2 separate regions of the Homo sapiens genome follow, and region 2 is linked to region 1. A link means that fine-mapping ties the variant in region 1 to the expression of a gene that starts in the linked region. Tissue or cell type: whole blood. Region 1 holds a variant in brackets; the other region holds the start of a gene. All regions are shown on one strand. Distances are between the middles of the regions.

Region 1 (8,107 bases):
TGCCCTGATGTCCCTTTTGAAAACTACTATGGGCTAGGCGTGGTGGCTTACGCCCGTAATCCCAGCACTTTGGGAGGCCGAGGCAGGTGGATCACCTCAGGTCGGGAGTTAGAGACCAGCCTGGATCAACATGAAGAAACCCTGTCTCTACTAAAAACACAAAATTAGCCGAGCGTGGTGGTGCATGCCTGTAATCCCAGCTATTCAGGAGGCTGAGGCAGTAGAATCGCTTGATGCTAGGAAGCCAAGGTTGTGGTGAGCTGAGATCATGCCATCGCACTCCAGCCTTGGCAACAAGAGCAAAATTCCCTCTCAAAAAAAGAAAAAAAAATGGCCGGGCGGGTGGCTCACGCCTGTAATCCCAGCACTTTGGGAGGCTGAGGCGGGCGGATCACGAGGTCAGGAGATTGAGACCATCCTGGCTAACACGGTGAAATCCTGTCTCTACTAATAATACAAAAAATTAGCTGGTAGTGGTGACAGGAGCCTGTACTCCCAGCTACTCCGGAGGCTGAGGCAGGAGAATGGCGTGAACCCGGGAGGCGGAGCTTGCAGTGAGCTGAGATCGTGCCACTGCACTCCAGCCTGGGTGACAGAGCAAAACTCCATCTCAAAAAAGAAAAAAGAAAACAGAATAACTCACAGTATTGAGTTATTCTGAATAACTCACAGTATTGAGTTATTCTGAATAACTCACAGTATTGAGTTATTCTGAATAACTCACAGTATTGAGTTATTCTGAATAACTCACAGTATTGAGTTATTCTGAATAACTCACAGTATTGAGTTATTCAGAATAACTCACAGTATTGAGTTATTCAGAATAACTCACAGTATTGAGTTATTCAGAATAACTCACAGTATTGAGTTATTCAGAATAACTCACAGTATTGAGTTATTCAGAATAACTCACAGTATTGAGTTATTCTGAATAACTCACAGTATTGAGTTATTGAGTTATTCAGAATAACTCAATGTATTGAGGGCTAAGTAGGCCAGACACGGTGGCTCCTCCCTGTAATCCCACCCGTAATCCCAGTAATTTGGGAGGCCAAGGCAGGAGGATCCTTTGAGCCCAGGATTTTGAGACCAGCCTAGGAAACATAGTGAAACTCCGTTTCTACAAAAAAAAAAAAAAATACAAAAACTAGCCGGGCTTGGTGGCTCATGCCTCTGGTCTCAGCTACTCAGAAGGCTGAGGAAGGAGGATGGCTTGAACTTAAGAGGTCGAGGCTGCAGTTAGAGGAGATCACGCCACTGCACACCAGCCTGGGTGATAGAGTCAGACCCTGTCTCAAAATATTAATTAATTAATTAATTAAATGTATTTTGTAACAACAGACAGTGACTATTTTCCCACTTCACTGACCCACGTCCTACCCCATCCTAGGAAAAGGGGAGACAGTGATTCACAACTGAATAAGTGACTGCCCTCTGGCAAATAGGGATTCCAAGTGGAACATAACCTCTGATGCCAAGATTTATAGAATGTACATGTCTTATAGATACGAATTTTAAAATTCTCAATCTCATCTGTGTAATTTAAACAAGTTTTTAGTTATTAGATTATATATACAGAACTCAACATGTCACAACCAATCATATCCAATGAACTCACCCACTCATCTGAACCCAGTCTCTCGCCCCTTTTTTTTTGTTTGGAGACAAGGTCTCGCTCTGACGACCAGGCTGCAGTGTAGTCACATGATCTCAGCTCACTGCAGCCTGGACCTCCTGGGCTCAAGTCATCCTCCCAGCTTGGCCACCAGAGCAGCTGGGAGTACAGGTGCACACCATTATGCCCGGTTATTTACTTACTTTTTTGGCGGGGGGGAGGTCTCACTATGTTGCCCAAGCTGGTCTCGAACTCCTGGACTCAAGCAATCCCCTTGCCTCAGTCTCCTAAAGTGTGGAGACTACAGACTACAGGCGTGAGCCACTGTGTCCAGACCCTCTTTCTTCATTACTGTGCTTCCCTCCCTAATTCTGTACATATCTCTCATTCTCCCCTTCTCTCTCTAGCTCTTGTTTTCTTTTCTTTTTCCCTGGGATTCTGCTCTTCATTTTGTACCCCTCTCCTCTCCTGCTATTCATCCCCTTCTTCCCTTTATTCCTTCTCTTCCACCTCTTCTCCTCCATCCTCACAACTTATTTAACCTCTTATTGCTCCTTCTCCCCAATCTTTCAATCGTCCTCAATCTCCATCTATTTCTGCCTCTTCTCCCATCTCTGCGCCTCCTCTGCTCTCCCTGTTAAATTCCATCTTCCCCGATATACTCCCTTGTCCCCACTCTGTGTCTCCCCAGATCCCAGCTGTCCTCTCTGCTGTGGTTCTCCCTCTGTTCTCCTTGACACAAGCACCACTCTGCTCTGTCTGCCCTGGCTCCAAATCCTTCCCTCTCTCCCTCACTCTGATGAGTCTCCCTCTTTGCTGCCACTCCCCCTACCTTGTGATCCTTCATCTCTCTGTACATCTATCTAGCCTTTCTCTACATTTCTCCGGTTGCTTTTCTCCTCCTGCTTTCTTAGGTTTTTTTTTTTTTTTTTCACTTCTGCCATCTCTTGGCATATCCCTCACCAATCCTCTATTTTGCCATCTGTTATGGGCCTTTCTTATTCTTCTTTTCTCTGCCTCAGGTTTTCTACTGCTCTCTGTCTCCTGATTCCTTTGGCCCACACAATCGCAACACGGTTTGGAGTAAGACGCCTGCATCCCGGAGGAGCGCATTTTCCACGCCCTGGAGCTCCGCAGGCAAGAATACCCCGTGCCGCAGGACAGGCCCCTGGGACCTCCCCAGTGCAGGTTCAATGAAAGCGGTGACTGCGGAGGGGAGACCTGGGGAGCAGCAGGCCCCGGCATGAGGAGGAAGGTGCGGGGCGGGGGGGGGGGGCGCGACGGCGCCTTAGGACCAGGATGGGGTCTGCAGGATCCCAGGACCTGGCAGAGGACTCGGCCTCCCCGGGACTGGGGCTGCGGCGCGGCGCTCCCGGGGCTGAGGAGGGGGAGGCTGGGAGGCGCCCTGGGCAAGAATCCACATCGCGGGTGAAGACTTTAAAAAGCGCGGGGCGCGAGGAGTCAGAACAAGGTTTTCAGCAGGAAAACTACGCAACAGAAAGTGTATACATTGACCTATAGCAGAAAGACCGGGGACGAGACCAGCCTCAGGACGACTTTAAACCCAAAAGGAAGCGACCCTCGGGCTCTCACGGGGATGTCTCAATTTGCTCTGGGCAAAGGAAGACGCCGGAGAATTTCCAGGTCTGTGGGGACCCCACGTCCCAGGGACAGAAGCCCTGGGAACCTAGTTAGCGCAGACTTAATACAACACAGAGCAAAACTCACCGCGGCGATATGACCTACACTCCACCCGATCCGCTTCCGGGTTTGCGTTAATCTGCGCGCGCAGGACAAAAGCCAGGCCTGGGCGGGAAGTGGGAGGTAGGCGGGGCCTGGGCGAGGTAGGGGCGGGGCGCGAGGCGGAGAGACCTTGCCTTTTAGAACC[G/C]GCAGAGGGCAGGGCCGGGGCGGGATCTGCGCGTCTCTCAGCCTCGCTCCCAGCGTCTCTGTTTTCAGGTTTTGGAGGCGAGAGCGCCAGAAAGTCTGAGGCATGATACAAAAGCCCTGTTGAGAGAAGAGAGAGACCCTCTGACATTGTTTTATATTGTTTTATAGTCAGTAAAAACAACAGGAAGTAAAACCAAAGACAGGCAGCCCCGCGCCAGGCCCGAAACCAGGCCTGGATCCGCCTGGCCTAAACCCAGTAGTTAAAAATCAACTTATGATTTAGAAGCTGATGTTAGGCATAGATTCCAGACATTGTATAGAAGAACACGGTGAAACTCCTGCCCTGTTCTCTCTCTCCCTGATCACCGGTGCATGCAGCCCCTGTCACGTATCCCTTGCTTGCTCAATCAGTCACTATCCTTTCATCTGAAATCTTTAGTGTTGTGAGCCCTTAAAAGGGACAGAAATTGTGCACTCGGGGAGCTTGGATTTTAAGGCAGTAGCTTGCCAATGCTCCCAGCTGAATAAAGCCCTTCCTTCTACAACTCGGTGTCTGAGAGGTTTTGTCTGCGACTCGTCCTGCTACACTGTAATTGTCTGGAACAGGGATACAAACTAGAATGTGAAATGCAAAGCCCTGCCTGGGCGGTATGTACCATGTCATGCTGAGGTCCCACAGAACAGATAGATATCCTCTCCCTTTCTATTGTCCATTCACTCCGGAAGGAGACTCCGCCCTGTGCTCAGCTTCAGAGACTTCCCTGAAGCCACCGCCTGGAATGCCGGACGGAGTGCTCAGGCCGAGAAGGAGTGAGGTCACCACCTGCTGCTTAAAGACAGCAGAGGCGCGGGGGCGGGAGCCTGAGGTCCCAGCTACTCAGGAAGCAGCGGCGGGAGGATCCCTGAGCCTCGGGTTCCAAGCCAGCCTGAGCGACAAAATAACGCCCACTGCCGCGGTCTCCCTTTCTTGTCTCTCTCTCTCTCTTTTTTTTTAAAAAAAACTTTCGCAAATAAAATTTTTGATTGTGTGACATAGGGATCCAACATTATTCTTTTCCATGTGGATATCCAGATAGTTGTCCTAGCACATTTATGGAAGAGATCTATTACTTTCTTGTATTATTATTATTATTATTATTATTATTATTATTATTTTTGAGACAGAGTATTTCTCTGTTGCCCAGGCTGGAGTGCAGTGGCGAGATCTCGACTAAATGCATCCTCTGCCTCCTGGGTTCAAGCGATTCTCCTGCCCCAGCCTTGGGAACAGCTGGCATTACAGGCGTGCGCCACCATGCCAGGCTAATTTTTGTATTTTTAGTAGAGACGGGGTTGACCATGTTGACCAGGCCGGTATCGGACTCCTCACTCCAAGTTATTTGCCTGCCTCAGCCTCCTAAAGTGCTGGGGTTACGGCGTGAGCCAACATGCCTGGCTAATTTTTTGTATTTTTAGTAGAGATGGGATTTCATCGAGTTAGCCAGGACGGTCTCTATCTCCTGACCTTGTGATCCGCCCGCGTCGGCCTCCCAAAGTGCTGGGATTACAGGCGTGAGCCACCGCGCCCGGCCAGAAATATTCTTTTTTTTTTTTTTTTTTTTTTTAAACGGAGTCTCACTCTGTCGCCCAGGCTGGAGTGCAGTGGCGCAATCTCGACTCACTGCAAGCTCCGCCTCCCGGGTTCACGCCATTCTCCTGCCTCAGCCTCCGGAGTAGCTGGGACCACAGGCTCCCGCTACCACGCCTGGCTAATTTTTTTGGGTTTTTTTTTTTTTGTATTTTTTTTTAGTAGAGACGGTGTTTCACCATGTTGGCCAGGATGGTCTCGATCTCTAGACCTCGTGATCCACCCGCCTCCGCCTCCCAAACTGCTGAGATTACAGGCGTGAGCCACCGTGCCATGCCGCAGAAATATTCTTTGCTTCGCTTTTTAAATGTTGACAAAATATAACTGAAAACTAAAAAGTCTCCTCCCAAATGAGAAATCATCTCCACGACGATAACAGAGAAAGAAATAAAAACCATTTTATTAATAAATAAACCTTAGACCAGAATGTGATGGGAAATAGAGGCAAACAGCTAAAAGATTGAAAAGAGAGAAAGAAACTTCACTGTTCTATACAACCCATTAAGGACATATTTTCAAGATAAATACTAATCAGTCCTCAAGGAAGAGGACTTGACAACACCCTTGGTCACACATAGTTCATCCTGGCTCTACTTGGTAATGGAGGTGACCATCTGTGTCAGCTAACTAGCGTCATCCTGAGGGAGGGGGAGAAACTCTAACCCATGTCTTTTTGGCAAGTGTGAGTTTTACAACATGGCGACAGGTGCCCTCTCTGGTGAGGCTCCTACCATACGACAGACACTGATGTCAGCAGTAAATAATAAAATTTAAAGTATATGATTAAGTACAGAGTTAATGTGAACACAGAGCTTGAAGAAAGCCACCTGGAAACATCAACTCCAAATGAATGGGATCAGCGTTCCCAAGTAGAGACGTTAAGGTTTCACACACAGGGAAAGACAGAGAAGCTTTAGCAGAATCACCACACTTTCCATTCAAGACCAGTGCACAGGCTGCAGCAACTTGACTGGTGATGATTTGATACACTTCAAGGAAAGTTACTTTATCATTACATAAGAAGGGACAATGCTCTGAGGAGGTCTTATCACTGGGGCTCTGTAGTCTTCCTAATTTTTTTATTGTTATTGTTATTTATTTATTTATTTTGAGATGGAGTCTCGCTCTGTCACCAGGCTGGAGTGCAGTGGTGCAATCTCGGCTCACTGCAACCTCCGACTCCCTGGTTCAAGTAATTCTCGTGGCTCAGCCTCCCGAATAGATGGTACTACAGGCAAGCACCAACATGCCCAGCTGATTTTTGTATTTTTTTTAGGGATGAGATTTCACCATGTTGGCCAGTATAATCTCTATCTCTTGACCTCGTGATCTGCCAGAATCAGTCTCCCAAAGTGCTGGGATGACAGGCGTGACCCACTGTTCACGGCCAGTTTTCCAAATTATTTACAGAAAAACTCCTAGAAGTTGCGCCTGCATTCCTCTGAACTCAGGTTGCATGACCACATTCCTCTCAAGGCTCAGAATTATTTAAAGGTCCATGGCTTTAAATTGGAATCACTTGATATTTGAATTACTTAATTTCCTACTGAGACACAAGTGCTATCTCTGTTGTTTGCCTTTCAGACAGAGCTCCCAAGTCCTTCGGAAATACATTCCTGGGTCATTAAGCTAAAAAGCGGTTTAGTTAGTTTCTAAAAAAATTCCATTTCTGTCCGAGCGCGGTGGCTCACGCCTGTAATCCCAGCACTTTGGGAGGCAGAGGCGGGCGGATCGCCTGAGGTCGTAGTTTGAGGCCAGCCTGACCAACATGGAAAAAACCCTTCTCTATTAAAAATACGAAATTAACTGGGCATGGTGGCACATGCCTGCAATCCCAGCTACTCGGGAAGCTGAGGCAGGAGAATCTCTTGAACCTGGGAGACAGAGGATGCCGCGAGCGGAGATCACGCCATTCCACTCCAGCGTGGGCTACAAGAGCGAAACTCCATCTCAAAAAAAAAAAAATACTGTTTCAGAAGACAGAGAAAATTCATTTACACATTTTCTAAATAAATGTCCTAAGAAAAGAGTCTACAGGAAAGAAAATCTCTTACTTTATTTTCGAAGGAGGAATTATGCCTCTCACTTATTTGCTTGTTTGTTTGAGACAGGGTCCAGCTCTGTCATCCAGGTTAGAGTGTGCTAGTGAGATCAGGGATCAGTGCAGCGTCCAACTCCCTGGCTCAAGTGATGTTTCAATCTCAGTGCCCAAAGCAGCCGAGAACACAGGTGTGCACCACCACACCTGGCTGAGTTTTTTTATTTTTAGTAGAGACGAGGTCTCACTATGTTGCTCAGGCTGATCACACACTCCTGGGCTCAAGCAATCCTCCGGCATTGGCCTCTCAAAGTGCTGGGATGACAGGTGTGACCCACCGCTCGGAGTTCTGGCTTTATTTCCATGAAATAAGAAATTTTCTTCCACCTTCTGTGTATAATAGGCAGTTCTATATGTCACCTTTCTACTTTCATTATCCGCTCAAACAACCCAGGACCTTGCTTGGTTTACTAAGCCATTCAAATTATCAGTCCCCGTTGTAAGCAGCGCCCCACTCCACCCCTTTACCGAGGTACCTGCCCCTGTACCCCAACCTGTCCCAGCCTGAGGGGAGCTTGCCCCGCCTGCAGGACGCGCGACTCCACCTGCTCAAAAAAGGCACTTTGCCTTAAAACCATTTTCAACTTGGGAGAAAAAACGATTCAGCATTCAGTACAAAATGGCCCACTACCAAATGTTATTTTACCTTCGATTGTTTGAAATGTTAACTGAAAACGGGCAGGAAGCCTCCCTGTGATATTAGGGGTAATATGACGGCACATCAGAAACAATCCACCAATCAGAACCCGGGGGATCGAGTGCTGGAGATCAAGAGGATGACAGCAGGCCACATCATGGACCCAGCTGAGGAGAGAGCCCCGACGCATCGCTGCCAGGCCCCGCCCTTAAGAACAACACCCCATTTCAGGCCCCGCCTCCA
Region 2 (8,107 bases), 400 kb after region 1:
ACATCATTCACCCGGCTCATCTAGAGGCCCACCTTGCTTCCATGCCCCTATGTGACACCTCCAAGAATGCTTCTTCACTTTCCCTCATTTTTCTACTTCTCTTCCATGCATGAAGAGCACACTAGGCTGAAAGGCAAAAGGGCCTCTGGACAAAAGCAGGAATGGACACAAACTGCTATCTGCAGGACAGTGGGCCTCAAGTCTAGATTCTAGAAGTTGGCCATGCTGGAAGGAATTGCCCCCAATTTGGGGACACCATGGAATCCAGTTTAAAGGCAGGTGAAGATTGGCTGGACTGAGCTGACGGAGGATGTCCAAGAAAAAGAGAGGCCCCAGATCTCATGAGGGAGGCTGCCATTGTCCCCTTGTCTCTCCACTCACAGTCCCCTGCCAAATTCCCCCGCTGTTTAGGGAGTGCCTCCTTCATGGCCCGTTTAGCTTCTGAACTTCTCGCCACCCTTCCTGAAGGGAATCCAGGACCCCTGACTGTGAGCGCATCACCTGCTGGAAGGCAAAGCCCCTGCCCAGGATGGCCACTGGGCCCCGCTGATGTGTAGAGCGTGGAAGACCCGGGAGCTGGAGTAAGGCGGTGGGGACGCCTCGGCACTGGCTGAGGACACAGGGTCTGCGGGGCTTTTCAGGCCTCAGTGAGGCCTTCTGCTCTTACATAGACTGGAATAAATAGCCACAGGAAGTTTAGACCAATTACAGATGAAATTTCCAGAATATGAGACCATCCTCACTACCCGCCCTGTCCTTTTGGTCTTCCCTGAGGAGTCTTCAGCCCAACCCCAGCCCCAGCATCTGAACCACAACCCCGGAGCAGGTGCTGCAGTCATCCCGTGGCCCAGATGGAGACTGTGTCCTCCAATGGAGGGAGACACAAAACACTCAAAATAATCCACGCAGAAGAGTGTCCGATGTGGTGATGGATGCGGAGACAGTGAAACCTGAATAATGTGATAGAGAGTGACGGGCAGAGAGAATTTCAGATGGGGGTGGGAGGGCACGGGAGACATCTCTCAGTCTAGACCCGAAGGAGGAAAAAGGGACAGGGTCACGATCATTTAGGGACATAGGGTAAAAGCAGGGACAACGACCCGTGACAGGAAGGGTTTTGACATTTGGGAAAAGAGAAAAGCAAATGTGACTGGTGCAGAGGGAGTCATGAGATGAGGGCAAGCTCCCAGGAGGAGGCTGGACACTGGCAGGGGCCCTGGACACAGGGCTGTGGAGCCACAGTGAGGAGTTGGGCTTTTGTCCTGGGGAACACAGGAAGCTGGTGGAGGGTTCCCTGCCAGGGACTGACGTGACCTGCTTTAGATTTCTCTGTGATGTCCTCATACAGAGAAAGGCCCCGAAGATGGTCTCTGTGTCTGAGTCCCTGCTTCACATTCTTGTTTTCATTTTTAGAGGAAGAAATCCAAATAAAAATTTTAATTGCAACTGGCTAGTCCCCCCACATACAACTGCCAAACACAAATGCACACCCAATTTTGCCCCAAATTTCAGGAGTCAGTGTTGCTCACATTGAGGTTTTCTGGTCTAGTCCCTTATCTCTGTTACAGGTGGGCTCACTGAGGCTGAGAGAGGGAGTCATTTCACCAAGTTATCCTGAGAGGTCTGAGTTGAGTGAGAAGGAGGAGATGTGGCTGAATTATGATGTCACGACCTGGAAGGGCCAATGGGCTGTGTTTGCCTTTATCACATCTCCCTTAGAAAATTCCAGGACTGGCCAGGCATGTTGGCTCGTGCCTGTAATCCCAGCACTTCGAGGCTGAAGGAGGGGAGATTACTTGAGGCCAGGAGTTTGAGACCAGCCTGGCCAACATGATGAAAGCTCATCTCTATCAAAAAACACAAAAGTTAGCCGGGTGTGGTGGCCTGTGCCTGTAATCCCAGCTACTCAGGAGGCTGAGGCAGGAGAATCGCTTGAACCCGGGAGGCGGAGGTTGCAGTGAGCCGAGATTGCACCACTGTACTCCAGCCTGGGTGAGAGAGCAAGACTCCAGCTCACAAAAAAAAAAAAAAAGAAAAGAAAAAAAGAAAATTCCCAGACCCTCTTTCACATATCTGAGCAAAAGAAACTTCTTCAAGGTTTTATCACATTGGTTCCAAATGCAGCTCACAGCTTACTATTTTAACAAATTACACAAAAGAAGAAAATTGAATAATAGACTAGTTAAACTAGGTTTCCATGTTAAGGTAAAAACATCATTGACATCTTTATCAGGTACACATTGAAACAATCTAAAATTACCTACTAGTCAACAAATAATGCTTCTATTATATAATAAAGAGCAGAAAGCATGCAGACCTCTATCAAAACTGGACACAATTAATTTCAAAGGGAAAGATTTTGAAATTGTTAAGAAATATCTGATGAATTTTGGAGCTAAAAAAATTGAAAACACATTATATTTAGAAAATGCCATGAGCTGATTATAGGATGCCACCAAAGTTACTTTGGAAATAATTATATACAGAAAAATAGAAACTGAATTAATGAAGATCTATCTCAAGTTGCAAAATGAACTATACATGAGATGAAAGGGAATTAGTAAGAAAAAAAGCAAATCAATTACAAAAAGCAACAACACTTTTTTTGTTTGTTCTTTGTTTTTTTTTCAGACGCAGTCTTGCTCTGTCACCGGATCTCGGCTCTTGGCTCACTGCAACCTCCGCCTCCCGGGTTTACACAATGCTTTGCCTCAGCCTCCTGAGTAGCTGGGATTACAGATGCGTGTCACCATACCTGGCTAAGTTTTGTATTTTTAGTAGAGATGGGGTTTCACCATCTTTGCCAGGCTGGTCTTGAACTACTGACCTTGTGATTCACCCACCTCGGCCTCCCAAAGTGCTGGGATTACAGGCATGAGCCACCATGCCCAGCCTCAACACTTTTAATGTTCCTTTTGAGCAACGTTGTCCAATCCGCAGCCCAGGAAGGCTTTGAATGCAGCCCAACACAAATTCCTAAACTTCCTTAAAACATTTTGAGATTTTCTTGCAACTTTTTTTTTTTTTTTTTTTTTTTTTTTTAGCTCATCAGCTATTGTTAGTGTTAGTGTACTTTATGTGTGGCCCAAGACAATTCTTCTTCCAATGTGGCCCAGGGAAGCCAAAAGATTGGACACCCCTGCTTTAGAGAGACACTATGTAGTGACAGTCTTTCACTTTCTGCCCAGCTTTACTCTCCCACTCCCCCTTCCCCTCCCCCTGCCCCAACGCCAGGGAAGGGGAAGAGGATGACCTGTGGAATTAATGAGTCAAGTCACTTCCCTCTGCCTTAACAGGGATTGCAAGTGGAAGCTAACTTCTGATGCCATAATTATAAAATGCACCAGCCTTAATAGACAGGAGCTTTGCAATTCTCATCATCTGTGCATTTTAAACTTATAAAGACAGAAATCAACAGGTCAAAAGGTAGTCATCACATCCAGTCAGTTCACAACTCACCTGGACCTGGGGTCCCCCTCTTTCCTCATTATGGTGTGTTTCCCTCCCTCGTTCCGTACATCGCTCTCATTCTCACCTTCTTTCTCTAGCTCTTTCCTTCCCCTTTATTTTCTCCCTAGGATTCTGCTCATTTTGAGCCCCTCTCCTCTCCTGCTGCTCCTCCCCGTCTTCCCTCTATTCTTTCTCTTCCACTTGCTCTTTCCATTCTTGCAATGTATTTAATTCCTCTTTCTTCCTAATCTTTTCATTGTCCCAGTCTCCACATATTTCTGGCTCTTTCTTCCCCATTTCAGCACTCCCTGTTAAATTCCCTCTTCCCTGTTACACACCGTTGTCCCCACTCTTTGGCACCCCCAGATCCCAGGCCTCCCCGTGCTGTGGTTCTCCCTCTGCTTCTCCTTGTCATCGGCTGCCCCCTCTTGCTGTCCCGGTACCACACTGCCCTGTCTGCCCTGGCTCCAAATCCCTTCTGCTCTCCCCCACTCTCTGTCTGAGGAGCCTCCTCCTTTGCTGCCCCTCTCCCTACCTGGCTGTCCTTCATCTCTCTGGATACTGTGCTTTTTCTCGAAATGTGTCTAGTTACTTTTCTCTCCCTGCTACTTTCTCGGCTTCTTCTTCCACTCTTACTGTCTCTGAAAATCTCTAACCATCCTCTACTTTGCCATCTGTTTATTGGTTTGCCTCATTCCTTCCTGTCTCAGGTTTTCTACTGCTCTCTCTGTCCCTCGATCCCTTTGGCCCACACATTCACAGGACGGTTTGGGGTAAGACGCCTGCATCCTGGAGGAGCGCATTTTCCACGGGGTGGAGGAGGGCAGGCAAGAACATCGGGTGTCACAGGACAGGCCCTGAGCACCTCCCCAGCGCGGGCTCAGGGGAGGCCTGGGGAGCAGCGGGGCCCGGCACGAGGAGGAGGGAGGTGGGGCGCGACAGCGCCTTCAGACAGGGGTGGGGTCTGCAGGATCCCAGGACCAGGCAGAGGACGCAAGGCTCCCCGGGACTGCGGCTGCAGCTGCGGCGCTGCGCTCCAGGGGCCGACGAGGGCAAGGCTGGGAGGCACCCAGGACGGGAATACACCTCTTGGGTGAAGACTTTAAAAAGCCCGGGGATGGGGGAGGGGGTCAGGAAAAGGTTTTAAGCGGGAGGAAGAAGCAAAAGGCCGGGGACGGGGAGCAGCCTCAAAGCGACTTCAACCCAAAGGGAAGCGACTCCGGACCCACACTGCGAGGCCTGTATTCACCTGGGGTGGAGTGTACGGGGATTTTAAGGGCCGTATCGACCCTGGACATCGGCTGTGGAAATGGGAAACAGGGAGCGCAGGTTTAATCTACACAGAGGGTCACTCACGCTCGACGCCGTCACCTTCACCCAACGCGATCCGTTTCCGGGCCTGTAGGAAACTGCGCATGCGCGGAGAGAAGAGCCCGGGCAGCCTGAAGGAATGGCTGGAGTGGGCGGGGTCTGCGCCGCTTTAAGGTAAAAAAATCAGAGTTGTGTGGGCCACTTATGGTGGAAACCAAAATGTTTTCCACTTACCAAGTTGAAAACGGTTTATGTTAAAACTATTTTGCCTGCAGGTTGGACCCGATCCTGCTAGGGAGTCTCCTGCAGCTTAGCAGTCCGGGAACTGGGATTTCGGTGGGGAATCCAAAACTAGCAGTGATTGGATCCATAAAAGTTACCAAAAAACAAAAATGAAGTGTCTGGAATCACTCCACTGGATTTCAAGACTACCAATATAGGAAAGGTAATAAAAACTGTGTGGTTTTGGGGCAATAAAAGACATATGGATTGATGCAATACAGTAAGAGAGTACAAAAATAGCCTCTACAGGTACTTCCAACTGATTTTTGACAAAGTTACCAAGGGAATTGAATGAAGAATTTTTAAAAACTGGTGAGGGGCTAACTTAATATCCACAGCAGGAAAGAAGTCATCTCTACTCAAACTTCACAACCGTACAGACATTAGTTCAACATTGACCATAGCCTAAATGTAAAATATCAAACCATAAAATGGTATCCTGTAGGAGACTGAAAGAAAAAATTACTCACAATAAAATCGTAAGAATCAAGAGCTTGTTCAAAAATTCTTAGCCATAGCAGCAAAAGCATGATTCATTAAAGAAAAAAAAAATCAACTGGTATTTACCAAATTAAAAACTTTTGGTCTGTGAAAGACCTTCAGACGATGAAAGAAAAGGTATTTGATATGGTTTGGCTCAGTGTCCCCATCAAATCTCATTTTCAAGTATAAACCTCAGGTGTTGAGGGAGGGACCTGGTGGGAGGTGACTGGATCATGGGGGTGGTTTTCCCCAAGCCGTTCTCATGATAGTGAGCTCTCAGGAGATCTCATGGTTTAAAAATCTGTGATAGTTCCTCCTTTGATCGCTCTCTCTCCTGCTGCAAGCAAGACGTGCCTTGCTTCGCCTTTGCCTTCCTCTATGATTGTAAGTTTCCTGAGGGCTCCCTAGCCATGCGGAACTGTGAGTCAATTAAACCTCTTTTGTTTATAAATTACCCAGTCTCAGGTTGTCACAGGAGGGTTTAGGCAGTGTGAAAATGGACTAATACAGTACTGAATAATAGAAAATATTTGCCTACCATATATCTGACATAAAACTGGTATGTGGAATGTATAAAGAATCCTAGAACGACTTAAAAAAAAAGCAAAATAATCAAATTAGAAAATGGATAGAACTATGAAGAGACATTTCACTGAAGCAGATATACTGAGATAAATGGGCACATAAAAAGATTTCCAACATCACCATCCATCAAATCTCAGACCTCAGCATATTCTGCTTTCTCCATGTGAACCCCTGGATGCTGTCAGAGATCATGAGAAACACAGGAGCTTCTACTGAACAGTCCAGTTGATGTGTATTAGCAACCTGTAATTGTTTTTGGAAACGAACAATGGAAACACAGATACAAAAATATTCTCAGCTCAAGAAATATGCACTTTGTCATTATTAGTGATTTTTTTTTTTTTTTGAGACAGAGTCTTGTTCTGTCACCCAGGCTGGAGTGCGGTGGTGTGATCTCAGCTTACTGTAACCTCTACCTCCCAGGCTCAAGCGATTCTCCTGCCTCAGCCTCTTGAGTAGCTTCAACCACACGCACGCGCCACCACACCCAGCTATTTTTTGTATTTTTAGTAGAGATGGGTTTTCACCATGTTGGCCAGGCTGGTCTCCAATTCCTGACCTCAGGAGATCCACCCCCCTTGGCCTCCCAAAGTGCTGGGATTACAGGGGTGAGCTACAGCGCCTGGCCACCACTAGAACTAACACCTCAGGTACTGGATGCCTCCTTCGAAAGATTGGATAATCGTTCTTACAGGATTATGTGGTAATGAGTGTCTCTGTCATTCATTTAGGTAAGATGCATACGCAATAGTGATCTATAAAATATAGACTTAATTGATCTATAAAAATATAGATTTAATACAAAGTTACCACAATCACAATGATATATGAAGATAAACCATTTAAAAATTACAAGAGATACTAACAAAATAGGTATAGATGGTGAGTAAAGGACAAAAATAACTAGCATTGTTACTGTAGCATCATCATTAAAAGCTTTGTCTTTGCAACCAGACAACATGGATTCAAATCTCGATTCTGCCTCTTACTGAAATGTGACAAGATGAGTCTTTTAAAGCAGAATATGCTGAGATCTGAGATTTGATGGATGGTGATGTTGGAAATCTTTTTATGTGCCTATTTATCTCAGTATAACTGCTTCAGTGAAATGTCTCTTCATAGTTCTACCCATTTTCTAAATATATATATATATATATATATATATATATATATATATATAGAGAGAGAGAGAGAGAGAGAGAGAGAGAAAGAGAGAGAGAGAGAGAGAGAGAGATGGAGTCCCGCTCTGTCACTGAGACTGGAGTGCAATGGTGGGAACTCGGCTAACTGCAACATCCGCCTCCCAGGCTCAAGCAATTCTCCTGCCTCAGCCTCCCGAATAGCTGGGATTACAGGCGCCCGCCATCACACCCAGCTAATTTTTGTATTTTTAGTAGAGACGGGGTTTCACCATGTTGATCAGGCTGGTCTCGAATTCCTGACCTCAGGTGATCCCCCCGCCTCGGCCTCCCAAAGTGCTGGGATTACAGGCATGAGCCACTGTGCCCAGCCTAATTTGATTATTTTGCTTATCTGTCCTAAGTTTCCTCACCTCTGAAATGAGAATATCATTAATACTTATTTCAGGAGCTGATGATTCAGTTGTTACACATAAAGCATTAATAACTGTGATTCTTACTCTAAATGTGATTGATATAAAATATATATGCAAAGATAAATCACTTATTAAAGAATATATATCAGTTTTTTAAAATGGAAACAAATCTAAGGGGAGTATATTAAATGGCAGCTGTCATTGCAAAAGTTGCACAAATATCATGTTTTGCTGTAAGATCCTCTGGCTCAGAAAAGAAATACCAGCCACAGTAGGAAGTTGAATTGCCTCCAGGGATTCAATGAGAGAAATTATCTCCTTTGCATAAATGATAATTAATATCTTGGGGACTCTCTTATTAACTGTATTTTCATTTACTTCTCCAGATGCTGGTTAACCTCCACACGCTTGATTTTCAAGCATCTGATCTTTGATAACTTC

Evidence for each region. PIP is the estimated chance that this variant, and not a neighbour inherited with it, causes the effect.
Region 2: ZNF415 starts here. The variant in region 1 is fine-mapped to the expression of ZNF415 in whole blood (TOPMed, PIP 0.95).

What each region holds. Positions count from the first base shown.
Region 1 is chr19:52,731,658-52,739,764 of GRCh38, forward strand. ZNF611 (zinc finger protein 611) reads right to left here and starts at 3,387. Exons shown (of 6, transcript NM_001161499.2): 1 at 3,344-3,387. It overlaps LOC124904760 (a long non-coding RNA gene), which reads left to right and starts at 2,374. Exons shown (of 2, transcript XR_007067328.1): 1 at 2,374-2,803; 2 at 3,137-4,047. RefSeq lists enhancers at 3,375-4,360, 3,673-3,802 and a silencer at 3,423-3,492. The variant G/C (reference allele first, on the strand shown) is at 3,504.
Region 2 is chr19:53,128,050-53,136,156 of GRCh38, forward strand. ZNF415 (zinc finger protein 415) reads right to left here and starts at 4,861. Exons shown (of 4, transcript NM_018355.4): 1 at 4,807-4,861. It overlaps ZNF347 (zinc finger protein 347), which reads right to left. Exons shown (of 5, transcript NM_032584.3): 5 at 6,886-8,107.